4 linked regions of the Homo sapiens genome follow. The main gene of each other region encodes a partner of the protein of the gene in region 4 in a complex. Each region holds a gene or a part of one and is shown on either strand. Other genes may lie near its edges. The genes, in order: ULBP2, PIGT, PIGU and PIGS. A codon is read from its position in the direction of its gene.

Region 1 (7,640 bases), on a different chromosome or scaffold from region 4:
GGTGCCAGGCCTCTCTAGCAAGAGAGGAGGAAGGGCCTGGATGGCAGAGGATCTTCAGCAGTAGCCCACGTGGACTGCGGGAGGTGGGAGAGGGTGTGGGTCCACCCCTGTGGATGCTGGTGCTGGTTGAACAGAGTGAGGATGGAACCCCGTTGGATAAAGAAGAGTTAATTATCATGGCCACAGGATTTAACATGTTGGCAAAGCCCCTGGTGATGGCATGCATCTGCTATGAGGAGGCCTTCCTGAAACCTTGGACAAAGAGATGGTCCACACAGCAAGAAATGGAAAATCTGAAAGTCTAAGGCAGGTAGTGGAGGGAGAGATCACAGGCTCAGAGAAGTGCCCATGCCAGAGGGGTCTAAGTGTGAAAATCCAGAACAATGTCCATCCACTGTGCTTATGGGAAACCTGGAGGACTCCTGTTTACCCAGCATATAAAGAAGGCCCCATGAGAAGGCACCAGAATGGAATGAAGCTTAGGGATGCCTATTGCTGAAGGCCAGGGTTGGGGGTAGGAGATGCTGTTCCTGAAATCTGCTCCCAGAGTAATGGGATGAACAATTCTGAAATTCCAAATTCCAGGTGGAGGCTGTCAACTGTCAGGAGCAAGGAGGGTGCAATGATGGAAATGATTAGAGAAGTCACAATGCCAGCTGGGGACCTCAGTTATACAAAGTTATGCCCATGGCTCATAGAACAAAGGGGTCCAAGGTCCAAAAGAGATGCAAACCCACCCCAGATACTGCTGGATTTAAATAATTACAAGAAACAGAGATAAACCAAATCAGGAGGCTGAAAGTAGCCAGTCCATCAAGAACGAGGCTGCTTTGCCTAATTTGCAGAATGAAGCCACTTCTCAGACCCTGAACCCATGACTAGAAGAAGACACCAGTTTCTAGTGAGGAAGGACCCTTTAACCCTGCAGCCAGGACAGTGAGTCCTTGTGGCCTTCTCCAAAGATATTTATGGCCAGTAGAGTTTGCTGTGAAGGGCAATTTTGTAAACATGTAAAGGTGTGCAGGGAATATATTCTCCATTGTAACTACTCAACTCTGCTGTTGAAGTTCAAAAGCAGCCATAGACAATCCATGCATGATGAGCGAGGCTGGACCTACCTTAAGTGCCCAATGACCCAAGACCCCCTAAGACCCTAGAGGTACATGTGGTCACAATGTCTAATTGGAGAATCACAACAGAGATTCCATGTGAATATTCAGAGACAAGGCAATGCCACTCACAGCAAGGAAATCGCAACATTAAGCAGTGGCTCCTGTAGAGTACTGCACCTTGGCAGAGATGGGGCCTTTTGCCATGCATATAAAGAAGGCCCATGACAAGGCACCAGAATGGAATGAAGCTTAGGGATGCCTATTGCTGAAGGCCTCAGAGCTGCCCATTACTGGTGGGCTCCTCACCCTCTAGGTCATTAGGAAGTTAGGCCCAGCAGTGAGAAGACGCAGGTGGTTCTTCTGGGATGGGCAGGAGCAGGGCCACCGGGAACCAAGAAGCTGCACAAGCAGTTGGACCCGATCCCCAGGACACCACGTGGCTGCACCCCCTCACCCTCAGCTCACACCTGAGGCTTCAGGGAGGGTACCTGATGGTCCCCGTGGATGCCACTCAGCACAAAGGAGGGGAGAATAAGCCCCCAACTATGGGACCCCCACTCCCATCACATCCACACCACCCAGAAGCCACAGACAAGGTAGGACCACCTTCTACTCTCCAACTGACATCAGAGACATCACTTGGAGATGACACCATAGGGGATGGGGCACTATTCACTGGGACATTGTAATCCCCTGATCTGGGATCAGCAACCTAGGACAGGGTCCAAATCTGGTCCCCCCTATTTGAAGGTTGCCATTGCCTGCTGTTGCTCTACAAAGGGACAGGACTGGACACTGAGACGGAGAACCCACGGCCTGCAAAGATCACAGGGCATCCTTCCTCCCTTTCTAGAAAGAGTTTGCTGACCCCTGTCTACACAGTGACTATTCTCTATGACGCTGACACCCCCGTAGGAAGAACAGGCGGTCTGGGCCCCAAGGGCAGAAGTGGGTGCCTCTACTCACCAGAGTTCCCAGGGTCATCCTGGAGGAAATGGTGCTTCCCATCCCCCCTGCACAGGTTCTGAGGGGAGCTTGGGGTGTGTTTGCTGGGGTGTGTCCTCAGGCAAGAGGCAGAAGGTGCGACGTGGTGTAGGAGGTGGTGAGGTCCCCTTCATGGATGGGGAGACCTCTGGGGTGACCAGCTGGGCTGAGGTGGGCAGTAAGAGGACGTGACCTGGGTGGTGGCAGTGGATGGTGAGGGGAGGGGTGGCGGTTGTCTGCTGAGCCCCTGGGTGCAGGTGAGTGTCTACAGGAAAGTGCAGGGAAAAATTCAAGGGCACGCAGCCCTGGGGGCGCTGGAGGGTTTGTGTGGTGGAGAGCGGGTGAGAGCAGAGCAGGCCTGTGGCTGGTGGGGGTGTCTGTGATCGCGTCCCTGTGGAATCCCGCTTCACCCCTGTCCTGTCCCCAGCTCCGGTTCCGGGGGCTCTGGTTTTTCCTTCCCGAGGGCGGGTGGGACTGCCAGGCTGCACCAGGGATCCCCGCCCCACCTCGCTCTCTGCAGCCCTCCGGCCCCTCCACCCTCCTGCCAGCCTCCTTTCCACCCCGCTCCTTTTCGCCTCTTCCCGGGCAAGAAGCAGCCTCGGGGACTGCACCCAGCAGGAAGGAGCCGCCGACCGGAACTGAACGGGGGCGCAGTTAGGGGAGATCTCCCCCGTCCTTCTAGAAGCCTCCCCTCCTCTGAAACCCGCGGCAGTTCACAGCCCTCCAGGCTTGGTCCCCGCCCGGCTTAGGCTCCATCCACGAACTCACCGGCTCGCCCAGCCCGGGACCAGCCGGACAGCAGGAGCAGAAGCGGGAGGCACAGAAGGATCTTGGTAGCGGCGGCTGCTGCCATTAAGGACCCAGAGCGCTAGGGATGAGAGACTTGATGGAAGGAGAGCCTGGAAGATGAATCACCTCAAGGTTTTAAAGCCTCCCTATGTACGGGCGCGCCCCCCGTTTCCCGCTGTCATAGCGTCAAGCGGGTCATAGCGTCACGCGGCTAGAAATATGATTGGCTGCCCTGACGGTGTCCCTCCCCTTCCCGGGCGTCCCTCCCCTTTGTCCCAACCCCCTTCGGGTTGGTGTCTGGGTGTCCGCCCGGCTCCTGCCAAGACACGGTTCCTTCCACGACAGACTCATTTAATCATCACAACATTTTTTTATTGAAGGTGAAGAAACTTGCAGAGGAATATTCAGCGGCGGCGGCGTCTCCCTGTCCCCGCCTGGGTCCGCGACGCTCTCCCTCCCTCCGCCTGCGCCGCGAGGTCCCTGGCTTATCATGCTCTGGGCGCAGCCACGGGCCTGATCGCGTCCCCTCCACTACTGCGCCAGTTCCCAGTGGACGTGATTACAGTCCGGGCTAGGTTTTATTATTTATTTATTTATTTATTTATTTATTTAGAGACGGAGTTTCGCTCTTGTTGCCCAGGCTGGAGTGCAGTGGCGTGATCTCGGCTCACCGCAATCGCCGCTTCCCGGGTTCAAGGGATTCTCTGGCCTCAGCTTCCGGAGTAGCTGGGATTACAGACGCCCTCCACCACGCCCGGCGAATTGTTTGTATTTTTGGTAGAGATGGGGTTTCATCTTGTTGGCCAGGCTGGTCTCAAACTCATGACCTTAGGTGATCCACCCGTCTCGGCCTCCCAAAGTGCTGGGATTACAGGCGTTAGCCACCGCGCCTGGCCCGGGCTAGGTTTTATTACAGGAGCAGCAGGCAGGGTTCCAGAGGTTTAAAACAACATATTGTGCACTAAACAACTGGTCAAGATGGTAAATTTTATCTTCTATGTTTTTACCAAAATTAAACAGCTTTAAAAATATATATTAAAAAATTATGTCTTGTTCCTGCTCTGCCCAATGCAGATTGGCCAAAAGAGTCTACTTATTAAAATCGAGGACAACATGGAGGACCCCGTTCCTAAAATCTCAACCTGTGACACACTTGCTGATTTAGAAAGCTCCTCAGAGAGATGGGCCCTGAGCTCCCAGTTCAGCAGCCTCCCTCGCCCAGGTCCACGGATGGCACAGGGGGCTCAGCAGAGCAGGTTCAAGTGAAAGTTCCTGGTGGTTCCCCACTGTTAGTGCATTCTGCTGGCCTCTTCGCCCTGGGCAAAGGGCCAGCCACCCTTCAAAGCTAGGCACAAATGCCCGGTCCCATGCGTGTCCCTCATGTTCCCACAATACAGAACACCCTCCTGCTCGCTGAGACCTGGGTCCACAGTGAGTGCATCCAGATCTCCCTGTGTGACAACTGCTCACACAATTTAATTTGTGTGTGTAAGCATGTGTGACAGACTCTTACTCTGTCACCAGTCTGGAGTGCAGTGGCACGATCATAATTCACTGAATCCTCAACCTCCTGGGCTCAAGGCTTACTCCCTACTCAATATTGGAGAGTGTGGGGCAAGATAGTCTGAGCCACTAGCTGAGCCGTCCTCTTGTTACTGTTTCCTATGCCCTGGCAGATGCCTCAGTAGTATTCACTCCTGGATTTACCAAGCCCTGTGTTAGACTGGTCCAGGGGCTGAGTGGGTCTTGGCTGTGAGTGCAACTGGGGTGAGTTATTCTGCCAGGATTGGGAACTGTGTTACTCAGGAAACTTTTCTCATCACCCACCCCAATCCTGTCCCAGATGGGAGGAGCAGTGAGTGCTGTGTCCAGGCTCCCTGTCTTCCCAGTGCTCCCAGCATCACATGAGCTCCTCCCCAGATGGTGTGGGGTCTGGGCTCTCCATGTTCACCATGCTCCCACCATTGGCTCCCCATTTCACTGCTCTCCCAGGATCATCCCAGCCCCTCCAGGGTCACTGCCTGACCAGGTGGGGGTTGGGTGAAGAGGCAGAGGTCAGGGCAAGACCCCTGGTCCATTCTGACTTTAGGTTCCTCTCTGAAACGCGACTGCATTCCACATCCTGTTCCTCTGGCAACCTCAGTTGGGATCACCTGTAGGGCAGTGTAGAATCCTGGTGGGTGATGACCAATTCCTGCCACCGTGGCTTTTCAAGTATATCGATTTTTCCTAAAATGGATAAAGAGACTGGCAATAAGTTATGGAAATACTGTTTTCCTTACTAACAGTAGATACGTGTTTATGTATCAATTCTGGTTTTTAAAACAAATATAAACCCATAGGCACTCTGCTGAACACAGATTCTATCTCAAAATAACACACTTTGAAGATCTTGCAATACCTGCACATACAGATTTTTTCCTTTTTATCTCTGCACATTACATAGAATGACTGCATCACAACAAAAGTAACCAGTGTCTGTGTCTGAAGATCCAGACGGTCTCCAGTGACTTTTAGAGAAGCGAAATGCTGCAGAAACTGTGCTTGCATGAATCACAATTTCATTGTGTAGAATAGATTTCCAGACACAGAATTGCTGTGCGAAGTAATGCACCTTTAAAGCATCTCATGTCATAGGATGGCAATGCTGGCGACACTCTTGTCTGTGATTGTGATGACCCAGCTTGGGCAGAGGATGGTGAAACATCCACCGTAGAGGGAGGGGAAACTGGTACAGGCTTCCTGAAGGACAGGGTGACAGGGTTCATCAAGGGTCAAAAATATCCGCGTCTGAATTGAGAATATGTATTTATATTCGTTTGAAACGGCATAAAGACTCCCTGGAAAGATGAGAAGAATCAAATAAACTTTCCTCCCTGGCGTGTGGCCAATGAGAGTGGACGCAGGCAGGGGCGGGGGAGCCTTTCACACATGACTTTTCAGGGTTTTGATTCTGAAACAGGTGAAAATGTGGAGGTGAAGTAGTAAGTAAGAGTGGGGCCGAGAGTCCCAGGGACGGTCACACGGTGGGCCCGCCTGATCTGTTGGGGGCCACTAGGGTCCGGGGAGGGGAACCCGGGCAGCTGCGTGCGGGGCTGCTGCAGTGACGAGGCACCGGTTCTAGATATTTACCCAACGGTGTTGTCACAAAGGGGATATTATAGGTGATTTCTGATTTCAACCGCAGATGACTTTCGGAGACAGTTCGCATATGCGGTTTCAGTTTTCACCCTGCTGCGTCCTCTCCGGGTTCTGCGCGCTCCTCCCAGGACGCCCGCTTCGCCCGAGCTCCGGACCCGGGTCCTGCCCGGTTGAGACCGCCGAGTGGGTGCCACGCTGCCCGCCGATGCTCCCGGGCCTCCGGGTCCACAGCCTCCGGACAAAACGGCCTTTCGAAGACCTGGGAGGACTCGCCGGTCGCGACAAGGAACCGTGGCAGGAGACAGGAAATGCGGGGCCTGGTGGGGTGAAGAGCACGAGGTTCCTCCTTCATCCTCGCGGCGACTTTGCCACCGGCTCAGTGTGGAGACGTCACAGTCCCGCTCGGATCCCTGGGGATCCGACAGTGTGGCCCCCACGAGGACCCCCATCCTCCTTGCCCTGGGGCTGCTGCGGGAGGGCGCCCATGGCGCACTAGGTCCTGAGTGCCCAGGATCCAACAGGGGCTTCCCGTTGTCGCCTCCCCGACCCCGCCGCTCGCGGTCCAGGGCTCCTGGTTTCTCCACTGGGCTGGGGGCCCCGAGCATGGACGTCTTGAGGCAGAGAAAACCTTGGGATGGTTGGAAATGAAGGACGGGAGGGAGAACCAGAGAAAGGGAGAGGAAGGAAGCAGGTAGGGCCAGAGAACAAAGAGAAACCTCCGCCAGGAAAATGGGAAGAGGATGACACAGGAACAGCCCTACACTCCACCAACTCTCAGTCTCCTGCTCTCTGCCTTGTAAGGAACGCAGGCCCCACCCCCTCCAGCCTCACAGTGTTTGGGGTCACCCATTCCAGCGGGGTGAGGCGTCCCCTTGTGGGTGCTGTTGGCATTTCCCTGAGGTCTGTGGACACTGAGCACCTTTTCCTGGGCTCACTGCCATTTGCATTCTTCTTCCGATGCCAGTGGGCAACCGGTGGTCCCCAAACTCTGATGAGACCTCGACCCCAGCCGGTGTCGGGCTCTTGACACCGCCTGGGGAAATGAATTCTAGGACCAGTAGGAAAATAGAGAAAGGACGGAGATTTTTTTGTAAAAGGGAAAGTACACACTCATGTAAAGGGAATGCAGGGGAACTCAAGAGAGAGGCAGGTGCAAGGGGGTTTAGGGCTGCCACCTTTCTGGGTTTCTTTAACAAGGGGTGGAATATTCATGAAAATTCCTAAAAGAAGGTGGAGACTGCTCAGAACTGTGGTGCCACCCATTTTTACACCAAATATTGGTGTTCTCTGAATTGCCAAGACGCTGGTGTGTGTGCGTTTAGTATGTCAATTAGTGTATAATAGGGTCCTAGGTGAAACCGAGGCCAAACCCAGGGCCATGTTGGGTCCACTCATTCTTAGCCAGCCTGGTCCATACCCTGTCTTTTAGGGTCTTATCAGCCCAGAGCCTCTGCAGATATTTCAACAGATTCCTTTTGCTAGTCACCTGAAACTGCTGCCTAAAGTTTTTTTCTTCTTTTGTGACCACACTGTATTATACCTGTCTCACTTTGGAGAAACATCTTTTTGAATTCTTTGCATATATTTAAATTGGGTTATTTTGCTTTATAATGT
Region 2 (8,017 bases), on a different chromosome or scaffold from region 4:
TTCAGTTTGACAGCTAGTAAAAGATCATGACTTAAGATATAAAGTTATTTCCTCATATAGAAGTTAAAAAGTACAGGTCTACATGAAAGCTCCATCGTTACTCAGCACTGGGCTCCTTTTTTGCTCTTTTGCACATGGTTTGCATTCTTAGCAATATCTCACATCTAAGGTGGCTGTCAAAGCCCCAGCCATCATGACCTTGAGACTGGCAGAAAGCAGGAGAGGAAATGGGGGATGGGCAAAGAGGGCACAGCCAGTCTATTCCCATTTAGGAAGAAATTTTTGGAAGTTCTTTTTTTTTCCCCCAAGATGAAGTCACACTCTTTCGCCCAGGCTGGAGTGCAATGGCACGATCTCGGCACACTGCAACCTCCGCCTCCCAGGTTCAAGCAATTCTCACATCTCAGCCTCCCGAGTAGCTGGGACTACAGGCGCACACCACCATGCCAGGCTAATTTTTGTATTTTTAGTAGAGACGGGATTTCACCATATTGGTCAAGCTAGTCTCGAACTCCTGACCTCAGGTGATCCACCCACCTTGGCCTCCCGAAGTGCTGGAATTACAGGCGTGAGCCACTGCACCTGGCCAACCATCCTATAGTCTTCCAGCAGAGTCTCTCAAATCAGTGTCTCCAGATAGACGTGAACTCCTTGGCATGTCAAGTGAGGGGGTACTCCAGCCATTCTGGCTCCTTACATCCTTTTTGGAACAGAGGGCTAGTCACCCAGATGGGGAGTTTCAGAAAGGACCAGGTTTGAGAAGAAGGCCATAAATTTGGTTTGGGACATGTTGAGTTTGAGATGTCTTTGAGACATCCAAGAGGATATGTTGAGTAGGCCCTTGCACCCATGCATGTGGAATTTAGATAAGAGGATTGAGCTGGAAAAAGAAAACGATCAGTTCTCAGTGTATAGGTGGTAAGTGAAGCCATGGGTGCGAATGACAGGAGAGAATGCCCAGGGAGAGAATGCTGAATGAAAGAAGAGGTTATAGGACCCAGTCTTAAGGAACATCAACTCATTTCTCACATTCAAAAAAAAAAAAAAAAAATCAGTCCACCTCCCTTCATACATTGAACATCACCCATGGGATCAGTGACCTTCAGCCAAAATCCTAAAGCTTTTTGTGCCACCCAAGGTTGAGTGACAAGGCTGCAGTCTTCCTATTGTCCCATCCTGCTCTCACCCCTGCAGGAGGCCAGTGTAAGTATCTGTTCCTAAGTGTTTTTCCTAACACTAGTGAGAAACCTGTGGGAACTCCAGGGAAGTAGGAGTGTCCACCAGCCATTCCCTGTCTCTAGGAAGCTTGTGGAGTGAATACCTTCTGTGCAAAAGCCTCTAGGTCCAAGTTGAGATCATCCACTGAGCTGGGCCAGGGCCCAGTCCTCTATTAACTTTTGGGGTTTTTCTGGGTTGCTTATGACCTTGCTGCACATAGAAGACATAATCTCTGTCCTCTTGTGGCTTCTCTCCTTCCTTCCTTTAGAGTAGCAAGGTTCTATCTACCTCCTGTCTGACTGTGGCTGAGCCATCTCTTGGGCTGCGGCCCATGATCCCAATAGCTTTGCTGTGCAGGGCTTCTCAGCTCCCAGGATCACCCCCCTTCCTTCCATGGTGAACGATGAGAAGCTAGACTGGCTTGGTTGCCGTCAACATGTCAATAAATCTCTTAGTAGCCCAGGCACATGATGCGAAGATTGTGGGGAGCCTGCCTTGAGAGAGGGATTTACAGCCCTCTAGAGAAGTAGAATTGTTTCTGAGCCTATGGGGAGCCTTCAGTTTGGCTGCTATGAGCCCCAGCCCTGCCTGGAAAAGTCTAGTGTCAGCTGAGACCCCAGGACTACTTCCTAGTTGGGACAATAACCTTTTCTCCTGCCGAACCACAGGGGCTTGGCTGGCCTTCAGAACCATCATCTCCAGCTGACTGTTTTTTGTTTCTTTGTTTTTTTAAAAAAACTTATGGGGGTTTCAAACGTACAACAAATATAGAAAGAAAAATATCCCAGGTTCTCATCATACAGCTTAAAAAATCATCAAAATAGTACCAAGATTGTATCATCTACCCACCACATATTTTTAGTGGAAAGACATTTATGATAACTCTTGAAAGAAAGAGTAGACTATAAAACACCATATTCAATATGGTCACTTTTTAAAAAAATGATAATCTTCAGATTCACCATTTGATTATAGTGTTGCATTAAAGTTAAACCGTGGTTTATGGCAGCCCAGAGCCTAGCTGTCTGGTTTTTGAGGCCACACAGTGCCTTTGGAGGTGGGAGGAAGATCTGGAGCCAACTCTAAGTCAAGGAGCCCAGCTTTCAGTCTCCAAGCTACAGCGTGGCTTCTGATATTTGCACGGACTTGTCATAGGGTGGACATCCTGACACACTTCGGAAAGGAGGCACCACAGCTCAGAAAAAGTTTCCTTAGAAGGCTTACACTGTAGCAACCCCAGGAGTGCACAGAACTTGACACTGAACAGCATGGCAGAGTAGGGAAAATACAGAACTGTGCTATGATGTCATCTTGTTTGTTCATTCATTCACACATTACTGAGCACCTACTATGTGACAGTCACCTTGCTTAGGCAACAGAAATACTAAGGTGACCATGAGCTCTTCCAGGAGCAGACACAGACACAGGTAATGGAAACAATGTGATGAGAGATGTAGCAGAAGTACATGAAGCCTGTAGACCACTAGAGGAGGAGAAGGTAAGTCTTCACTAGAGGTGGCTGGGTCCTGAATGATGGAGATGGGCAATTTCAAAAGGAAAACAGAGAAGTACAAAATAGTCATAATGATGGCAGCTACCTTTAAAAAAGTATTATTTTGAGGTTTGATAGTGTAGACTATAGTCCTAGCTCCATCACTCATTGTAATCTTTATTATCTTAGTTTATGTACTTCTTAATAATAACACTCAAGCAACCCTATCACTTAGGCACTATTATCTACATTTACATATTAGTGCCTAGGTGACAGGGTTGAGTGTTACTATTAAGCACTTGCTACATTCCATATCCTACATGTACATAATTTCTCATCTTAACAACAACCTTGAAAGTAGGTTTCTTCATTATACAAATGAAGAAAAGTGACACTTGGGTTGATCATGCTCATATGGATTAAAGGCTGGCATAGGGATTTGGACTCCTGTCTTTCTGACATCTAAGCCCATGGCCTTCCTAATATTTCGTGTCTAATGGGGCAGGAACACTGAATGCAGGCAGAATGAAGGCATAATGAGATAAAGACATCTTTCTGACATTTCCTTTCTGGAAATGTCTGGTTGGTTGGCGCATATCTTGGCAGACCTGCCTGACACCAAATTGGCTCTTTCTAGAAGTGTGGTCATGAGTGTCACCAAGAGACTGTTCATGAAATCCTTCATGAATGTGTTTCCCATAGGGCAGGTGGAAAAACTAAAGCATGACTTTAACTTTGGAACTCCGAAAAAGTCAATAAAAAGACAAGCCAGTAAACAAAGGGGTGAGGGTGCAGAAGACTTTAACAGACCTTTCACAAAAAAATAAAAATTAAATTAAAAAATAAATGGCAAATAAGCACATGAACAGATGCTTAACATTTTTAGTTACCAGGGAAATGCAAATTAAAACCACAATGAGCAAACACTACATACATACCCAAGTGGTCAAAACTAAAAAGTACAAAAAATTAGAAACTTCAAATGCTGACCAGGATGTGGTACAATGGAGACTCATAGTTTATGGAAACATAAAATGATACATTTTGGAGAAAGGTCTGACAGTTTCTTATAAAATTAAACATACACCTGCTCTCTGACCCAGCAATTCCACTCTTAAATACCTGGCCAAAGGATATGAGAAATATACGTCTACAAAGGAGCTTGCACAGACAGCAGCCTTGTTAATAATAACCAAAAACTTTAAAAGTGCCCATCAAGAGTTGAATGGATAAATTAATAATACTACGCAGTAATAAAAAGAATTGTGGATACATGCAAGAACATGGATGATTCTCAAAAACATTCTTCCCATGAGAAAAAAAAAAGCCTTACACAGTATACATACTATATGATTTCATTTATATTTAGTTCTGGAACAGATTAATCTATTGTGGGAAAAAATCAGGGTACTAACTGCCTCTGGAAGGTGATAGAGGAGCAGGGATTGACTAGGAAAGGGTATTGCTAATTTTCTGGGGTTTTAGGAATGTTCTGTATCATGATAGGAGTTCGGGTTACATAGGTGTGTGCATTTGTCAAAACTCAGTGAATGTGTACTTTGGATTTGTGCATTTCACTGTATGTGAATTTTACATCAAAATGCAATCGAATACTGAACTCTAGTTAATTATATGCATGCTTAACTACTTAAAGGAAAGTGTACTAATGTCTGCAATTTACTTTGAAGTGCACCAAAACACAAGATGGAATGATGGATGTATAGACAAATATGTGGTAAAGTACAAGTATAGTATAATGTAAATAGTAGAATCTAGGTGGTGGAAAATAGGTTTATTGTAACAGGTGCTCATTCTTTCAATTTTGTTTGAACATTTTCGTAATAAAAGAACCACTTATTTGGGGGTTTTGCAGCAAATGGAGACACTAGAAGCTAAGAGGGGCAGGAGGTTCCTCTTACTTTGGGAAATGCAAATTAAAACCACAATGGTTTTCCCAAAAGTAATTGATCTTTTTCAGTCAATGTTTCCTCAACTATCAAATGGGTAAAATGGCAGTGAAGGAGCTTCATATTATTAAGCATTTCCTGGTGGGTGGAATACGCCATGAACTAGGTGCGGCCTCAAGCTGGTTACTCGCCCTGCCTACTCCCTCTCGTGTCCTCCCAGTACCCCCTTAGACCCACCAGCTCTGAGGGAATCTTCGCGACCTGCGCAGGCGGTCGCTCTGATAACCGCATCCCGGTTTCCGGGACGACAGCGGAAGTCACTTCTCACACGCCTTTCTTATTGGATACCGGCTTTTCATGGGGCCGAGCGCCGCTGGGTAGGCGGAAGTAGCCGCAGGCATGGCGGCGGCTATGCCGCTTGCTCTGCTCGTCCTGTTGCTCCTGGGGCCCGGCGGCTGGTGCCTTGCAGAACCCCCACGCGACAGCCTGCGGGAGGAACTTGTCATCACCCCGCTGCCTTCCGGGGACGTAGCCGCCACATTCCAGTTCCGCACGCGCTGGGATTCGGAGCTTCAGCGGGAAGGAGGTGAGGGCGCGAGATCTGACCAGGGAAAGATTTCCGTAGTGCCTGCTGGCTGGCCGGCCGTGGGATGAAGGCAAACTTTGGGGGCGGGGCCTAATTCCTGGGTAGAGTTCGGGATCCTGGGTGTGGACCCCGACGAGGTGGGGATCGTCACTCACCTGCTCCCGTTTCCCCAGTGTCCCATTACAGGCTCTTTCCCAAAGCCCTGGGGCAGCTGATCTCCAAGTATTCTCTACGGGAGCTGCACCTGTCATTCACACAAGGCTTTTGGAGGACCCGATACTGGGGGCCACCCTTCCTGCAGGCCCCATCAGGTGCAGAGCTGTGGGTCTGGTTCCAAGACACTGTCACTGAGTGAGTGCACACCTTGGGCCCTGTTGCAGGCCATGGAGGGAATGTGGCTGGGAGAGTGTTGTCATCCTGCCACTGCTCTTGGGGACAGCACTTCCAGTAGGCAGCGATTCCATGGGGGTAGAGCTGGCATTGGAAGTAAGAAATGTTACCACAGATGAATAAACTTCCCAATCCTAAAACTTTCAGACCTGAGGTAGCACATGCATATCCCTGGAGAGGCAAATAGCAAACAATTAATGCTTATTTGGAGGTAAGGCAGTAGAAAACTGGCAACTGGATAACCTTTTAAAAGGCATTCATTAATATTTTTTAAATGATAATAAATACCACGAAAGCCAACCATAACATATCTGTGGGTTACAACTGGCCAACAGGATGCTACATCACAGTGTTAGAGGAACTGCTTTTGTTTGGGAGGGGGCAGGTCTAGTTACTGTGCCTACTACAAACCGCTATTTCCCAGTGGCTGCTGTGGCTATCCTGTTTAGAATAGAACCTTTCTGTGCAGTGGTTGCAAACAGGTCTACATGGGCCACACAGGTAAGGAATGAATAAAGGTATTTTTAAAATTGACAAACACAGGAATGAGAAATATATCTCATTTTCCTCTTAATCCCACTATAAGAAATCAATAGTGCAAGTATGATATAACAAGTTTTAGGGCAATAAAAAGGAGCAGCAGGAATTGTGGCAGGCTAGAGAGTTTGTGTGACATTCTAACGAGGACAGCTCTGCCACTCAGCTTCTATGGATTGTTGCCATGTGGGAATAGAGGCCTAATGTGGTCAGAGTCAAATGTTTCTAAAAATTTTTTGTAGAAACAAGGTCTCACTATATTGCCCAGGCTGGTCTCGAACTCCTGGGTTCAAGCGATCCTCCTGCCTCAGCCTCCCAAAGTGTTGGGATTACAGGCAAGAGCCACCACACCTGGCCTCATTTTTCAAGAGATACCAGAAATCTGGAATTTAATGTGAAAATTGGCAAATTCAAATATCAGCAAGTAATTTAAAAATTTTTTGAGTGCTGTGCGGGTCAATGTTGTGCATACCAAATGAAGCATGTTTATGGTTTGAGTAGAGCTTTCCGGCTTCAAGTTTGCCATTTTTATTTGAGGCTTAAGGATTGGAGCAGTTGAAAAGCTCTGAACATAGAATTATCAAAAGCTCCTGGACAACACTAAGGAATAAGGAATAAGCAGTAACTCCCCAGCTTGCCAAGACTTTCTCTCTTGCCTCAACTCTGGCTCCCCTACCCTTTCCTGTCTACTCTGCTGTCACTGTCTTCCCTCAGCCCGTAATTGCCTGAAATGTGGAGCAAATGCTTAGAATTCTTTCTAGTGCTTATTAAGTTTTATGCTTTCTCTATTACTGAGAGCAAATCTCTTTTGATATTTCTCCAAGAAAAGAACATTAATTTAATTTGATGTTTTTATGAAATCCTAGAACAGTTGTTTTTCCCATGTTCAGTGAGCTTTTTTGGATATAAGACTTCTCACCATGATAGTAGAATCAGGACTTACCTTTATTCCCAGAGTATACACAGGGTAGTATGCATTGTTTTGCCCAGCCCAGCACATTCAAGGAAGATCAGTGAGCTCATTTCAGCTCTGATACATGAGGCGCTTTCCATGGTGTCAGGGGAAGTACATAGATGACCCAGACTGGTCCTTGTCCTCAAGTTGCTTACAGCCTAGTTAGGGAGAAAAGGTGGTCAGGACACGATGCTGCTGCCACCTAGCCATCTCCCAGGAGGGACCTAGTAAGATGCTTGGATGGTCAGAACCGTGACTGCACAGAGGAGACTGTGCTTAAGGAGGGCAGGAAAGGCTTCGTGGAGGGGAGGTAAGCACTGGAGCCGGATCATGAAGGTAGGCAGAAAGAAGTTAGCAAAGGCTTGCAAGGAAGGAAGAATCACCTGAGCAGAGACCCATGGGGATGCAGAGATGTCCAGAGGAGAGTGAGGAAGAAGGGGCTGAGTAGGATGAGACCCAGCAAGTGGGCTGGCTGGGGGCAGCAATGTTCCAGCTCCATCAACTGGCCCGTCTAATAGTTAAGAATACAGCCTCCTCCTATCATAGGTTTAGCAGCCAGCTGTGGACTTTGAAAGAGGGAGCAGAGGTAGCCCCAGGACAGTGAGTGGATTTGTGTCTCTATCCAGTGTGGATAAATCTTGGAAGGAGCTCAGTAATGTCCTCTCAGGGATCTTCTGCGCCTCTCTCAACTTCATCGACTCCACCAACACAGTCACTCCCACTGCCTCCTTCAAACCCCTGGGTCTGGCCAATGGTGAGATAACCCCTACAGCCCTTTCCTTCTTCCTCTTACCTCCTGCCCAAACCTTTGCCTCCTTTTCCCTCAGTTTCCTGCTTCCTCAGCCTGGGCTAGATCCTAAGTCCCCTGTGTGTGCAGGCCCCCAATACTGTGCCATCTCTGCATGCCTTTTCCCAAGGAGAGAAGGGAGTCC
Region 3 (6,915 bases), on a different chromosome or scaffold from region 4:
GTGGCTCATGCCTGTAATCCCAGCACTTTCACAGGTCAAGGCGGGCGGCTCACCTGAGGTCAGGAGTTTAAGACCAGACTAGCCAACATGGTGAAACTTATCTCTACTAAAAATACAAAAATTAGCTGGGCATGGTGGCGGGCACCTGTAATCCCAGCTACCCAAGAGGCTGAGACGAGATAACAGCCTGAACCTGGGAGGCGGAGGTTGCAGTGAGCCGAGATCGCGCCATTGCACTCCAGCCTGGGCAACAAGAGCAAAATTCTGTCTCAAAAAAAAAAAGAATTCATACAGCTTATAAGTTGCAGAACTAGAGAAAGAGTCAAACCTTTTCTGAGATTCCAGACCCTGCACTCTTAATTACCAAACAACACTGTCTCATCTTTGGATCCTTCACCTGTCCATCCTGTAAGTAACCTCCTGTAAGTAACCAGATCCTATGCTTTCTTCTCTTCCACATTTATTCAACAGTAACTACACACCTACTGTATGCCAGACATAAAAGAATTCAGGAATGAATAAAACAGAATCCTTCAAGGAGCTCATAATATAGTGGAAAAGGCCAGGTGTGGTAGCTTATGCCTGTAATCCCAGCACTTTGAGAGACCCAGATGGGCGGATCACTTGAGCCCAGGAGTTTGAGACCAGCCTAAGCAACATGGTGAAACCCCATCTCTACAAAAAATACAAAAAAATAATAATAATAACAAGTAGGGTTGGTGGTACATGCCTGTAGTCCCAGCTACCAACTACTTGGGAGGCTGAGGAGGGAGGATGTCCTGAGCCCGAGAGGTCAAGGCTGCAGTGACCCATTATCACTGCACTCCAGCCTGAGTGTCAGAGTGAGACCCTGTCTCTTGAAGAAAAAAAAAAAAAAAAAGAGGCCAGGCATGGCGGCTCACACCTGTAATCCCAGCACTTTGGGAGGCCGAGGAAGGCAGATCACCTGAGGTCGGGAGTTCAAGACCAGCCTGACCAACATGGAGAACCCCTGTCTCTACTAAAAATACAAAATTAGCCAGGCATGGTGGTGCATGCCTGTAATCCCAGCTGCCCAGGAGGCTGAGGCAGAAGAATTGCTTGAACCCAGGGGGCGGAGGTTATGGTGAGCCGAGATCGCACCATTGCACTCCAGCTAGGGCAATGAGAGTGAAACTCCATCTCAAAAAAAAAAAAAAAAAAAAAGAGAGAGAGAGAAAATGTGGAAAAACCGGATATAAACAGGTAATTATGAGATAAGAAATGCTCTTAGTAGGGTGTAGAGGAAGAAGGGCCTAATACTGCCTCAGGTTTTCAGTTATCCAGAAGAAAACAGGAACCAAATGGCTTCGATTCATTTCAACAGAAAAATAATACGCAGAGGTAACAAATCCAAGCTCTTACAATCTCAGACATGAATTATTACTATCTTTATTACCATTCCCCAACTAGGAAACCTGGGCAAATTAACTTCTCTAAATTTCAGTTCCCTCATCTGTAAAAGGGGGAAAATAACACCATCTATCACATAGAAATAAATGTGAGGACTAAATGAGAAAAGGTATATGTTACCATTTTTAGAAACCTTAACTCTATTCATAAAACACCCATTCATTATGCCGTTCCCCATACCAACATTCTATGGGATAACATCAAAACGTTAGCCTTGGCCAGGTGCCATGGCTCACGCCTGAAATCCCAGCACTTTGGGAGGCCAAGTGAGACTGCTTGAGTCCAGGAGTTCCAGACCAGCCTGGGCAACATAGAAAGACCCTGTCTCTAAACAAAAAACAAAAACAAAAACAAAAAAACTTTAGCATTTAAAGGACACAAAGGGGACTTCTGGGGTGCTGATACTGTTTCTTGAACTAGGTGCTGGCTACATGAGTGAATACAGTTTTTAAAAATTCATTGAACTCTACACTTACTTAATATGCATTGTATGTATACTGTACTTCAGTAAAAAAAAAAAAAAAAAAGTTGTTTGTTTTTTTTTAATCATCAAACTCTGGCCTAAACCTAGCTTCCACCCCATTACTCCCCTGCTTTGGACATTTCACATCCTTGAACGTTTCTTCATCCTATTTACTTTCTGCTACCTGGAACTCTCCTTTTCTCTAATCTCCCTTTCAAAACCCTACATCCTTCAAGAGTCAGCTCAAATCCCACATTCTGGAAAACTGGAAAGGTAGGGGATAGTTTATTCAGGGTCAGAATACTAAGGAAGGAACTGGGTGGACACATAAAGTATACTTTTCATGAATTATTATAACGATTTGTCTCCCTCACTAGCCTGTGCAGCTACTTCAGGCCAACTTCGCTTTCTCGCTGTAGGCGTTAGTATAAAACAATGTTCGGTGAAGAACTTAGTAAGGAACAGTAACAAAAATTGCCCTGCAAGTCCCAGACTGAGAAGAGACGTCTAAAGCACACGCACACTCTCCTCGCTTAAGCAAAATTGGTCCCCTCATCCCGGACCCCCTCACACATAACCTTTTATCCCAGGGAGCACCCCTGGCGATCCCGCCCCAAATCCCAAACTCCTCTGCAAGCCGCGCTCCACAAGCACCTCCTCCTCTTATTCCAACCCTTCCCACAGACCACACTCCTCGGCTCAGGACACTGAATGGGACACGCCCCCTCAGATCCCCACCACTAGGTGGTCCGGCCCCCAGGGCCCAAACCTCACGACACTGTCCCCACGCCCCGGTCCCCACGCCCCCTCCCCTCACCAGCCCCGCCCTCAGGCCCCGCCCTCTCCAAGAACCCCACGAGACAGTCAGTTAGTTCTCTAGGAACCGCGCGCTGGCGGTCACTGCCCCCGCCTCCCATTCACAGAGGCCGCGGGAGGGCAGGTGGGGCCTGACAGTCTGCTCGAGCCAGTGGCCTCACCTCTCTTCCAAGAGCTCAGTGGGGACACCACCTCCACCCGCTCGGAAATGAACTCGGCCAGACTGGAGCGGAACAAGGCCGCCCGCACTGTCACAGCCACCACCAGCACCAGGACCAAGGGAGCCGCCATGATAACTGGGGCGGGCGCGCGGGCGGGGAGGGAAGGCGAGGCGGAGGAGCCTCGCGCGCTGTGCGCCACGCTCTGTAGTTCCGCGGGTGGGCGCGCGCTGCCGCTGGCGCCGGAGAGGCCAGACGTGGGGACTACGGCTCCCAGAAAGCCTTGCGGCGAGGCGGGCCGGAGCGACGGAAAGCGGGCGCCTCAAGCTGCGTATGCAGAAGGTGGGGCGAAACCTTCTACGATCGCAGGTGTTTTGTGAAGCCGCGCCGCTATAGCGGGGCTGAAACGCTGCTGAAAGTAGAAGCGGAAGTAGTCGCCTTCCTGGGATTGTGAGAGACTTTTAAACAGATGTTAAATTCACTCTTGCGTGTATGTTTTCAATGCCAAAATGTTTATTTTTATTTTTATTTTTATTTTTTTTGAGACGGAGTCTCGCTCTGTCGTCCGGCTGGAGTGCAGTGGCGCGATCTTGGCTCACTGCAACTTCCGCCTCCTGGGTAGCTGGGATGACAGGCGCCCACCACCACGCGCGGCTATTTTTTTTTTTTTTTTTTTTTTGTATTTTTAGTAGAGATGGGGTTTCACCATGTTGGCCAGGTTGGTCTCGAACTCCTGACCTCAGGTGATCCGCCCGCCTCGGCTTCCCAAAATGCTGGGATTACAGGCGTGAGCCACCGCACCCTGCCCAAAATGTTTATGTTTTTTGTTTTTGAGACAGGGTCTCAGTGCCGTCGCCCAGGCTGGAGTGCAGTGGCGCAATCTCAGCTCACTGCAGCCTGGACCTCCCGGGCTCCAGAGTAGCTGGGACCACAGGTGCGCGCCACCACACCCGGCTAAGTTTTTGTACTTTTAGTAGAGACGGGGTTTCGCCATGTTGCCCAGGCTGGTACCTTTTATGTTTTTAAAGAGTGTTAAATGTGTATTTTTTAAAAAATTTATTCTGGCAGTTGTTTGTTAAACGCCAACTATTTTCCAGGCACTATGTTAGGTTCTACAGATGCGTTTTGGAGTAGTAGACTGATTTATTAGCTAGTTCAACAAGTCGCTTAACCCTTGTGTGCTGAAAAATGTGCTGATTATAGGCTAACTAGGGACAGTTGAGGAAGGCTTAGAAATTTTTTTTTTGTTTTGGAAACGGAGTTTCGCTCTTATTGCCCGGGTTGGAGTGCAATGGCGCGATCTCAGCTCACTGCAACCTCCGACTCCCAGGTTCAAGCGATTCTCCTGCCTCAGCCTCCCGAGTAGCTGGGATTACATGCATGCGCCATCACGCCCGGCTAATTTTTTGTAATTTTAGTAGAGACAGGGTTTCTCTATGTTGGTCAGGCTGGTCTCGAACTCCAGACTTCAGGCGATCCACCTGCCTGCCTCGGCCTCCCAAAGTGCTGGGATTACAGGCTTGTGTCATCGTGCCTGGCCGGAAGGCTTAGAAATTTTGCCAGTCGCTTTTAAACACAGGCATTTTTGAAAATTAAGACATATAAACCTACAGTTAAATAACTTATATTGAAAACAACGGAATACATATTCAACACGTCACTTTCTAATTATTTTACTACACTTTTTTTTATATGTGCTTTTGAGATTATTTACCACCGCTGTATCAGTACAGCAAATACTATCTCTTTCTCTTCCCAAATGGTGGTGTTCAGTTTCCTCAGGTTGATAGATTGAAAATCCCTCCCAATGCGAGTGTTTACACCACAGGAATCAGCAAACACTACAAATCAGGGGTTTGGGGTTTGGAGAGCCCATTGATAAGCATTAAGCAGCACACTTCATTAATTAATGTATAGTAAGTGCTTAAATATTAGCAATAATAATATTAAATGTGCAAGGAAATTTCATATTTGTGAAGAAAAGGAAACAGGCTGGACGCAGTGGCTCACGCCTGTAATCCCAGCACTTTGGAAGGCCGAAGCAGCCGGATCACTTGAGGTCAGGAGTTTGAAACCAGCCTGCCCAACATGGTGAAACCTCGTCTCTATTAAAATTACAAAAATTAGCCAGGCATGGTGGCCTGTGCCTGCAGTCCCAGCTACTCAGGAGGCTGAGGCAAGAGAATCACTTGAACCTGGGAGGCGGAGGCTACAGCGAGCCAAGATAGCGCCATTGCACTCCAGCCTGGGCGACAGAGCCAGACTCTGTCTCAAAAAAAGAAAGAGAGAGAAGAAAGAAAACGAAACAGTGTATGACTGAGAATAACTGCTGGTGTAATAATAAGGGTGGTAACACTAGACAAGGTGATCAGGGAAGACTCTAGAAAGAGGTGATATTTGAGCTGAGACCTAAAGGATGAGAAATTAATCAGAGCCTCCAAGCAGAAGGAACGGACTGAGTGGGGAAAGAGCAAGGTATGTTTGAGGATCAGAAAGAAAACAAGTATGGCTCAAGTGGAGAGAATAGAAGAAGCTGTGGATGGAGAGACGGGGGGCAATCAGGTAGGGACCTATTGGCCATGCTTGAGAATTTGGGCTTTATTCAAAGTGCAATCCATATGCCATTGGAGAATTTTAAACCAGAAATGATGTGAACAGGTGTACATTTTTCAAACATCTCTATATTCCCACAAGCCCTCTATTGGGTGTTGGGGAATATTGCAGTGACAAAATGGCACCATCTGCCTTTGCCCTTATGTAACTTGGAAAGCAGTTGAAGAGATAAAATAGTTAAAGAATAACATAAGTAAAATCACAAACCATAACTCCAGCCTGGGCGACAGAGCAAGACTCCGTCTCAAAAAAAAAAAAAAAAAATCACAAACCTTAATGAGAGAAAGAAAAGGGGGAGTGGGCCAGGCGCAGTGGCTCACGCCTGTAATCTCAGCACTTTGAGAGGCCATGGCGGGAGGATTGCTTGAGCCCAGGAGTTTGAGACCAGCCTGGGCAACATGGTGAAACCTGTCTCTACAGAAAACATAAGAATTACCCAGGCATGGTGGCGCATGCCTGTAGTCTCAGCTACTGGGAAGGCTGAGGTGGGAGAATCACTTGAGCCTGGGAGGTTGAAGCTGCAGCGAGCCAAGATCACGCCGCTGCTCTCAGGCCTGTACGACAAAGCAAGACCTTGCCTCAAAAAAAAAAAAAAAGAAAAAAGAAAAAAAATGGCCGGGCGCAGTGGCTCACACCTGTAATCTCAGCACTTTGGGAGGCCGAGGCAGGCAGATCACTTGAGGTCAGGAGTTCGAGACCAGCCTGGCCAACATGGTGAAACCCCGTCTCTACTAAAAATACAAAAAATTTAGCTGGGCAAGGTGGCGGGCACCTGTAATCCCAGCTACTTGGGAGGCTGAGACAGGAGAGTCACTTCGACCCGAGGATCGGCGGTTGCAGTGAGCCGAGATTGCACCACTGCACTCCAGCCTGGGCGACAGAGCAAGACTGTCTCAAAAAAAAAGAAAAAAGAAAAAGAAAAAAATGGGAGTGGGATTCTAAAAGAATGCAAAAATAAACCCTGGGGCTGATAGCTTTCTGGACCAGTGAAAGGGGTAGGGTCTCCTTTGGGGGAGGGGATCATGAAGAAATTAGAGGGGCACTCATCCTTTGAGCCCCTGCTGTGTGCCAAGTAGTGTACCATATGCTTAACACACATGAGCTTATTTAGTCTGCACAGCCTTCCTTCTTAAAGATGTGGGTTTTTGTATCCCCTTTTACATAAAAGGAGATATATGTGTTGCATCATCTTACAGTGAAGTGTATTACATCATAAAAAGTGGAAGTAATTGTAACACTAACCTCATAGTGAATATTGAGCAAGGTTATACAATGTAAAATGCTTAGCACATACCCAGTGCTCAGTAAAGGTTACTTAGCTGTTATATTATTTACATCATTCTAACAGATGACTTAAAAATTTATCTTAGGGTGAGGATTGTCTTTGGGAAAAACAGTGATTAGCCATTGTAGACAGATGTGACCCAAACCAGT
Region 4 (6,928 bases):
GCTATTACTATTTCCGTCTAACAGATGAGGAAACCAAGGTTTAGAGAAGTTAACAACCTTACTCAAATTTACACAAATAAGTGGCAGAATAAGGCTTGAATTCCAGCTCTCTGATCCCAGATTCTATACTCTTGGTCACCCTTTATACGTGTTGCCTATACTATACGTTTACAGTATACCCATATTACTGAACACTGTGTTATCAAATATGAAGAAATCCATGATAAACTGAAAACAATCAAATTTCAAACTAACTTGTGAGGGATAGTCCAATTTTTGTTTAGAAAACAAGAAGTTTGGCTGGGCATGGTGGCTCACGCCTGTAATCCCAGCACTTTGGGAGGCCGAGGCTGGTGGATCACTGGAGGTCAGGAGTTTGAGACCAGCCTAGCCAACATGGTGAAACCCCGTATCTACTAAAAATGCAAAAAATTAGCTGGGCGTGGTGGCAGGCGCCTGTAATCCCAGCTACTTCAGAGGCTGAGCCAGAAGAATCGTTTGAACCCAGGAGGCAGAGGTTGCAGTGAGCCAAAATCGTGCCATTGCGCTCCAGCCTGGGCAACAAGAGCGAAACTCCATCTCAAAAAAAAAAAAAAAAAAGAAAGAAAACCAGAAGTTTGTGTGTGTACAGAGGCTGAACCATACGAAATATCATTTTTTTAAAAAAATGTTTTAACCAGCCGGGTGCGGTGGCTCACACTTGTAATCCCAGCACTTTGGGAGGCTGATCACTTGAGCCCAGGAGCTCGAGACCAGCCTGGGCAACATGGCGAAACCCTATCTCTACTAAAAATACCAAAACAAATCAGCTGGGTGTGATGGTGTGCGGCTGTAGTCCCAGCTATTAAGGCAGGTGGGCTGAGATGGGAGGATCGCTTGAGCCCAATAGGTCAAGGCTGCAGTGGGCCCTGATCGTGCCACCATACTCCAGCCTGGGCAACAAAGAGAGACCCTTTCTCAAAAAAAAAAAAAAAAAAGAAAAGAAAAGTTTTCACCAAGGCTAAAGAACTAAAAAAGTAAATGGCACACAGATGCCTCATGCTCTAGACTCAGCCCAAATCTCCAGTCATTCCCAGTCTTTCACTACACATTCCAGTAAGGCAAAACTGCTCATAGGTCCCCCAATATGCTGATTCACCCCGCCACACTTTCACACAGGAGTATAGTTTGTTGGTTAAAAGCTTGAACACTGGAATCAGTCAGGCCTGGATTTAAATCCCAGTTCCATCTCTTACTAGCTGTGTGACCTTGCACAAGTTAAATTCTCTAAGGCTCAGTTTCTTCATTTATAAAATGGGGATCATATCATTAGAAAGGATTAAATGAGGCAACACATATAAAATGCTTCACCTAGTTTCTGGCACACAGCGAGCAACAACTATCAGCTATCCTTATACTGTCTCATGCTATTAACTTTGCCTGAAATTCTCTCCCTCCTTTTCCCACTTAACCTGAATTCCTACACATCCTTTAAAAATCCGACTTAAGAATTACATCTCTCAAAACTTTCTCTGCCTTTCTTTCCTCCCAGATGGTTAATACTCTTTACTAAGTGCAATCTCTGTTTCTTGTATACTTCTACTGTAATTTATTTTATCTTTCTCCCCTACCTATGAACATCTTGAAACCATTATCAATTTCTTATTCATTCCTAAATTCTTGGTACCTAAAAAAAAGTACCCCAGTAAAGTGTTTAATGTTAAACTGAATAGGGGCTGGGCGCGGTGGCTCACGCCTGTAATCCCAACACTTTGGGAGGCTGAGGCATGCGGATCACCTGAAGTCAGGAGTTCGAGAGCAGCATGGCCAACATGGCATAACCCCGTCTCTACTAAAAATACAAAAATTAGCTGGGCGTAGTGTCGCGCGCCTGTAATCCCAGCTACTCGGGTGGCTGGTGCAGAAGAATCGCTTGAACCCAGGAGGCAGAGGTTGCAGTGAGCCAAGATGGCGCCACTGCACTCCAGCCTGGGCGACAGAGCGAAGCTCCGTCTCAAAATATAATAAATAAATAAACAAACAAACTAAATAGGGCCTATATGCAAATCCAATTTAATTTCAAACTCTGTGTTCTTTCCACTATATCCCACCTCTTCCCCTATACCCTGATGGGCATCAACTGCTTCCGATTAGGTAGCCTGTCTTACGAGTAAAATTGCTATTTAGTGACTGTGAATTTGAAAGTAGTTTTTTTCTGACCAAACACACTGTTCATTCAGAGGTCTTTCAACAGTAAGTTTTTAACTGCGTTTATGGTACACCCCCGCTCCTCCCACCCAACTCAGCTCTGAACTGAGCTCAGAGGCGAAAAGCAGCCCTGATCCCCAGTAACTCACATTTCAGAGGAATCTCTCTTTCATGCACAACGGTGAAGGGCAGCTTCTCCTGGTCGTCCAGGGGCACTGACTCCCGCGTAAACACGACAGTGACAGGCACCATGAGGCGGAGCTACAGGAAGGAGCATCAGGGCCGTCACTGAGTCTCCACCTTGCCGGGGGGGCTGTCCCCCGACCCTCCCGCACAGCAGTCTCACCTGAAGGGCATTCAGGCCACTGATCTGGGAGTAAGGCAACGAGGCCCGGTAGGTCTCCGTGGTCTTCCACCAGAGCGGTAGCCCCAGCACGATGGCCACCGCAGCGAAGAAGAGGGCGGCGCGCTTGCCCCGGGCCACCTCTGAGGGCATGGGGAACCGACTGAGGCGCTGGAAACGGGCTAGGGTACCGGCCCCATCCCCGACGCGGAGAAGCCCCAACCACCGGCCTCCAGGGGCCCGCGTTCATTGGGATCTCCGTGCGAAGGGACCCGGCCCAAGCCTGAAGGGAATCTCGTCTGAAGAGACCCCCGAGCCCCCCGTCCGCGGGACCTCTCGCACACCACAATCCCCACCCCTGCTATTCCTCCCTTGCCATCAGCTAGCTGCAGGCCCCCCACCCGAAGCCCACCGCACCTAGGTGTGTAGCCGCAGCCCCGGCGGCCGCCATGCTAGCTTCCGGCTGCTCCGGCCACCGTGGGGGCAGAGCTTCGTGAGCCTCACCCAATCGGAATCTCTGCAACGAGGGGGCAGGACCGCGGCGGTGATCGGGGCCAATCGCGAGCGCTACTCCAGACCCGCAGACGGGAGCAAGCGGGCGAGGGGTGGGAGGGCTCCGCTGGGAGCTTCGCTGGGGATCTGAAAGGAAGTCACCCGGGCGCGGAGGGACAGCCTAGGGGCCGTGCGGGTTTCGGCGCTGCTGGAACGAAGTTCCCCGCTTCCCTGTAGAACACACTTCTAGCCCCGCAATCAAGAGCGCAACCTCTGCAGTCCTTAAATACTAGCTGGGCAACTACAGGCAGCTCCGAGGCTCATCTGAAAATGGAGATATTTACATAAATGAGGCCGTTCTTGTAAGGAGCCTGGCACACGGAAAGCCCTCAACGTCAACTGTCACGGTCTTATTATCCTTATCGTAGAACTCCTCTTAGGGTGCCCTCTCCTCAAAGCCTCAAACACGGAGGTAGCAAGCTAGTATGTTTTAGCACAATTGGCTCTCTCGCTATTTTAAAATACGTTTTAATTCATTTCCAACTTGGAAAACTCAGAATACTTCACTTAAAAATCTTGAAAAGTCATGAGCCCAGACTCTAGATGCTGATCACTGCGGTTCAAATCCTGGCTTCATCACTTATTAGGTGAGTGATCGTGAGAAGATCGTTCTGTGCCTATCTGTGCCTGTTTTCTCTATTAAAATAGGGATGATAGTAATAGTACCTACTTTATAGAGTTGTATGAAATGTGTCAGTACATATAAAGTGATTAGAACAGGGTTGGTGCTATGTGCAAGCTATTTTTGTTATTATAAAGTCAGGCCACACAGGGTGGAGCATTTGTAGCCTCCCCAGTTGACACAGAACACACGCAGCTTGTTATCTCTTCTTTTTATCTGCTTAGACCCAGGTTCTCAGCCTACCTCACAACCCAGCCCAGTGGTTAAAGTTCAGCATCAGGCCTCACCAGAGCTGTCCTTACCCAGACCCTCCAATTGGCTCCCTTTGTGCCCACTTCTACCCCAAATGAAAATGGGCCATAGCCCTTGGCAACCTCCTAGATGCCCTGCTCAGCCCTGGCAGCCCGCAGAGCCTTGGTTTTCCTCTTTGGGCGGGAGTCCAGGTGCTCGCTTGCCCTTACTGGTGTGGCTCACCCTAGTGGAAGGTACCAGGTCCCAGCTGGGCTTAACACTGCGAGATGGGAGAGACTCCCACCCACTCTTATCCCAGCCTGTCTTGCTGCCTCCCTGCTTTGAGCCTTGCACAAATCTGCCTTCAGGAGTTGCCAGTTTGGCCTCACTCCATACTTCTGTAGCTGCAGCCCAGTGCCACTGATGTGGCAGTCCCTAGAAGACTTGCAGTCTTCCTCATTGCCCCACTCCAGACTTGGACATCAAGAGAGCAAGAGCCTGAGCTGGGGATGGTGACTGCATGTGCCCTTCCTCCATAACTTGAAGCCCAGTAAGACTCAAATCCCACCCTCTCCACCTCCAGAGTCAGAGGGCCCAGAGATAGAATTAGCAGAGATCAGAAACTGGGAGGTGGGAATTTGATGTGTAAAACAGACAGGCAAAGTAGAATGTTTTGCTACCATTTATTTGCTGTATGGTATGTACTCAAGGCATGAGTCAGGGCTTCTGTACTACCCTCTGATCCCAGGAGACAGGGCAGGCAAGAAGGAGAGCCCAGGGAGAAGCTACCTCATCATGGGAAAATTGTGGGAGCTGGAAGAGGTAGGGGGAGACCCAGCCATCCTGTTCTGACTTCTAGCAATTTCTTCTGCCCTCAGTCATGAGGGGCTCCCTATCCTCCCATCCTATGGTCCCAGGTGCAGCAATGAGAGAGGGGAAGGGAAGAGAGAAAGGAAGACAAGTTGGTGCCAGGTGAAGGCATCTCTGCTCTGCATAGCTATTTGGCCCTGGCCATGACTACAAGCAAAAGTGGGTGCAGATGGCTGGGCCAAGGGCTGTGGTATGGAGTGGATACTCAGTAGGCATGGTTGGCAATGTAGAGTGACTGTGCTGCTGCTCCACCATCTTCTCCACTGCCTTCATACTTGCCCTGGGCTGCAAGCCCATTCACCTGCAAAAGGGAGCGTGGAGTAAGCAGGCTGAGCCAGCCCACAGGTGCCAAGCCCTGCCCAGGCTATAGCCTCTGGGTGCTGCCCCCACCCACCACCACCTGTAGCTCCCAACCTCAGCCCGCTTGATGAACTCCTCAGTGGCAGCCCCAGCATTGTCCCGTTGCCCTCGCCAGGCATTGAGTGCAGAGGCTTGCAGGGCACGCCCATAGGAGAAGGTAAGCGCCCAGGGTCGGGGAAGGGGGCAGCGGTTGATGGCATTGAGGTTGAATGATGCCTCTTCTTCGCTCTGACCCCCAGACAGGAAGGTCACTCCTAGTGTGGAGGAGAGAAGACAAACTGACTGGTCACTCCCAATTTTTCCAGGATAGGGAACCCCTGAAGGCCACAAGAAGGACCTGAAGATGGGCCTTAGGGATAGGAGCAGGTTAGGGAGCTGGGTAGTACCTGGGACAGCTGGGGGCACAGTGCGACGCAGGGCAGTGACAGTTGCCATGGCAATCTCCTCTGGGGTATACTTGATGGGACAGGCATGGCCCGGGGTCACCATGTTGGGCTTGAGCAGGGTCCCCTCCAGGTATACATGATGGTCACTCAGGGCCTTGTACACAGCAGCCAAGACCTGGGTGGGGATTAGAGGAGGTTTACTAAGGGTCTGGGCCCCCACTGGTTACTGCTCGATGCTCCCTATGTAGGGGTAGATGGGCACAGACTGTGAGGGCTCAGTACAGGCTCAGATCACAGGCCTGTGCCGGGATGAAGTGAAAAAGTGCTAGGGGAAAGTGTGCCTGGATCTAAGCTGGGGGTTCTGGGGAACAGACACTCCTGCCGAGCTGTCCCTGCAGTATGTTTGTGTGCCCAGGTGTGGACTCACCTTCTCTGTAACATACTGACAACGTTTGAGGTCGTGGTCTCCATCAGGCAATATTTCAGGTTCCACAATAGGCACAATGCCATTCTGCAGGCAAGAGCAGAGATGCTTGGGAGGGGCAGTAGGGGAGATGAAGAAAGCCTTGTGACTCTCTCCCCACCAGGCATACAGGGCACCTAGCTCACCACCCTCCCAACACACACACCTGCTGGCAGATACTGGCATAACGGGCCAGCACGTTGGCGTTCTCCAGAATGGCAAGTGCAGAGGGTGTACGCTCACTGATTTTCAGCACACAGCGCCACTTGGCAAAGTCAGCACCATCCTTCTTGTATTGGGCACAGCGTTCTGAGAGCCCATCCAGCCCTGCAAGCACAGTGCCAACCTCATTACTCTGCCCCTCTTTTACCAGCATCAACTATCTAACACCTCTTTGGTCCTCAAGCCCACCCATCCTATACCTTGAGTGGTGGTTTCTCCATCAGTCCCAGCTAGAGGCACCACACCCTTGTCAACCTGTAGAGGAAGTACAAGCAGAGGGTTGAATCCAGGCAGGATTCTCCTTGCTACCCCTCCTACACAAGCTTATTTTCACACCCAGCTTCCATTCAGAGCAGGGCCAGGGGCTGCACCTTGATGCCCACGACGATGCCCTTATCCTGGATGGTTCGGACGAAGGGAACACCATTATCATCTTTCTGGTAGAGGGTCTCATGGAAGAAAATGACGCCTCCAATGCACTTTTTCACACGGTCATCAGCACTGAACAGGACCTGGCGGTACAGCCGGCGGTTCTCCTCTGTGTTTTCCACCCCAATTTGGCTCAGCCGCTTGGCCATGCTGCCTAGGGGCAAACAAAGAGAGGCAGTGAGAACATCCCCAGGGTCCCCTAGCCACCTGTACCCTACCTGGCTACAGATGTCCACTTACCTACAGACTCATCCGCAGCCAGA

The links.
Region 1: the proteins of PIGS (region 4) and ULBP2 are in contact, whole or in part, in a cryo-EM structure (PDB 8IMY), measured with the Homo sapiens proteins. Residues at the interface, in NP_149975.1 of Homo sapiens: Pro514, Gln517, Phe519, Ala520, Ile523, Pro524, Leu527, Pro528, Val531, Pro532, Leu535; in NP_079493.1 of Homo sapiens: Arg223, Ala224, Thr225, Ile230, Leu234, Ile237, Leu238, Ile242.
Region 2: the proteins of PIGS (region 4) and PIGT are in contact, whole or in part, in a cryo-EM structure (PDB 8IMY), measured with the Homo sapiens proteins. Residues at the interface, in NP_149975.1 of Homo sapiens: Thr9 (codon at 2,957), Glu12 (codon at 2,948), Val13 (codon at 2,671), Gly16 (codon at 2,662), Ala19 (codon at 2,653), Ala20 (codon at 2,650), Phe23 (codon at 2,641), Thr230, Pro238, Lys239, Tyr244, Ile247, Glu248, Val251, Gln256, Val270, Asp271, Ser272, Gln273, Ile274, Tyr276, Tyr277, Met279, Ser309, Arg310, Ser313, Ser314, Ala315, Ala316, Phe513; in NP_057021.2 of Homo sapiens: Pro26 (codon at 5,092), Arg27 (codon at 5,095), Val63 (codon at 5,203), Ser64 (codon at 5,379), His65 (codon at 5,382), Tyr66 (codon at 5,385), Arg67 (codon at 5,388), Lys71 (codon at 5,400), Gln75 (codon at 5,412), Lys79 (codon at 5,424), Tyr80 (codon at 5,427), Val133 (codon at 7,743), Gly136 (codon at 7,752), Lys191, Leu193, Pro194, Cys195, Ser196, Lys198, Ala199, Glu270, Pro271, Pro273, Leu274, Tyr526, Ile529, Cys530, Cys533, Val536, Ala537.
Region 3: the proteins of PIGS (region 4) and PIGU are in contact, whole or in part, in a cryo-EM structure (PDB 8IMX), measured with the Homo sapiens proteins. Residues at the interface, in NP_149975.1 of Homo sapiens: Ala4 (codon at 2,972), Gly5 (codon at 2,969), Ala8 (codon at 2,960), Thr9 (codon at 2,957), Glu12 (codon at 2,948), Arg15 (codon at 2,665), Arg18 (codon at 2,656), Ala19 (codon at 2,653), Phe22 (codon at 2,644), Phe23 (codon at 2,641), Val26 (codon at 2,632), Leu30 (codon at 2,620), Leu34 (codon at 2,608), Trp35 (codon at 2,605), Thr38 (codon at 2,596), Thr39 (codon at 2,593), Leu510, Leu511, Phe513, Ile521, Tyr522, Leu525, Phe526; in NP_536724.1 of Homo sapiens: Gln118, Phe282, Glu283, His284, Phe285, Leu287, Phe288, Phe289, Cys291, Val292, Phe293, Ile295, Phe299, Tyr300, Ile302, Pro303, Ile306, Lys307, Lys309, Glu310, Thr417, His418.

The regions. Positions count from the first base shown.
Region 1 is NC_000006.12:149,937,382-149,945,021, reverse strand, and holds the start of ULBP2 (UL16-binding protein 2 preproprotein), read right to left. Parts: upstream 3,009-7,640; 5' UTR 2,950-3,008; coding exon 2,865-2,949; intron 1-2,864. UniProt on the Homo sapiens protein: Binds and activates the KLRK1/NKG2D receptor, mediating natural killer cell cytotoxicity.
Region 2 is NC_000020.11:45,411,141-45,419,157, forward strand, and holds the start of PIGT (GPI-anchor transamidase component PIGT isoform 1 precursor), read left to right. Parts: upstream 1-5,000; 5' UTR 5,001-5,016; coding exon 5,017-5,203; exon of another isoform or gene 5,204-5,376; coding exon 5,377-5,554; exon of another isoform or gene 5,555-5,677; intron 5,678-7,073; exon of another isoform or gene 7,074-7,243; intron 7,244-7,711; coding exon 7,712-7,839; intron 7,840-8,017. UniProt on the Homo sapiens protein: Component of the glycosylphosphatidylinositol-anchor (GPI-anchor) transamidase (GPI-T) complex that catalyzes the formation of the linkage between a proprotein and a GPI-anchor and participates in GPI anchored protein biosynthesis.
Region 3 is NC_000020.11:34,674,085-34,680,999, forward strand, and holds the start of PIGU (GPI-anchor transamidase component PIGU), read right to left. Parts: upstream 3,009-6,915; 5' UTR 3,002-3,008; coding exon 2,872-3,001; intron 1-2,871. UniProt on the Homo sapiens protein: Component of the glycosylphosphatidylinositol-anchor (GPI-anchor) transamidase (GPI-T) complex that catalyzes the formation of the linkage between a proprotein and a GPI-anchor and participates in GPI anchored protein biosynthesis.
Region 4 is NC_000017.11:28,568,516-28,575,443, forward strand, and holds the start of PIGS (GPI-anchor transamidase component PIGS), read right to left. Parts: upstream 3,010-6,928; 5' UTR 2,982-3,009; coding exon 2,948-2,981; intron 2,674-2,947; coding exon 2,534-2,673; intron 2,449-2,533; coding exon 2,337-2,448; intron 1-2,336. Other genes in the region: ALDOC (fructose-bisphosphate aldolase C), read right to left, coding at 5,011-5,106, 5,220-5,419, 5,552-5,726, 5,979-6,062, 6,181-6,341, 6,437-6,491, 6,608-6,819, 6,906-6,928. UniProt on the Homo sapiens protein: Component of the glycosylphosphatidylinositol-anchor (GPI-anchor) transamidase (GPI-T) complex that catalyzes the formation of the linkage between a proprotein and a GPI-anchor and participates in GPI anchored protein biosynthesis.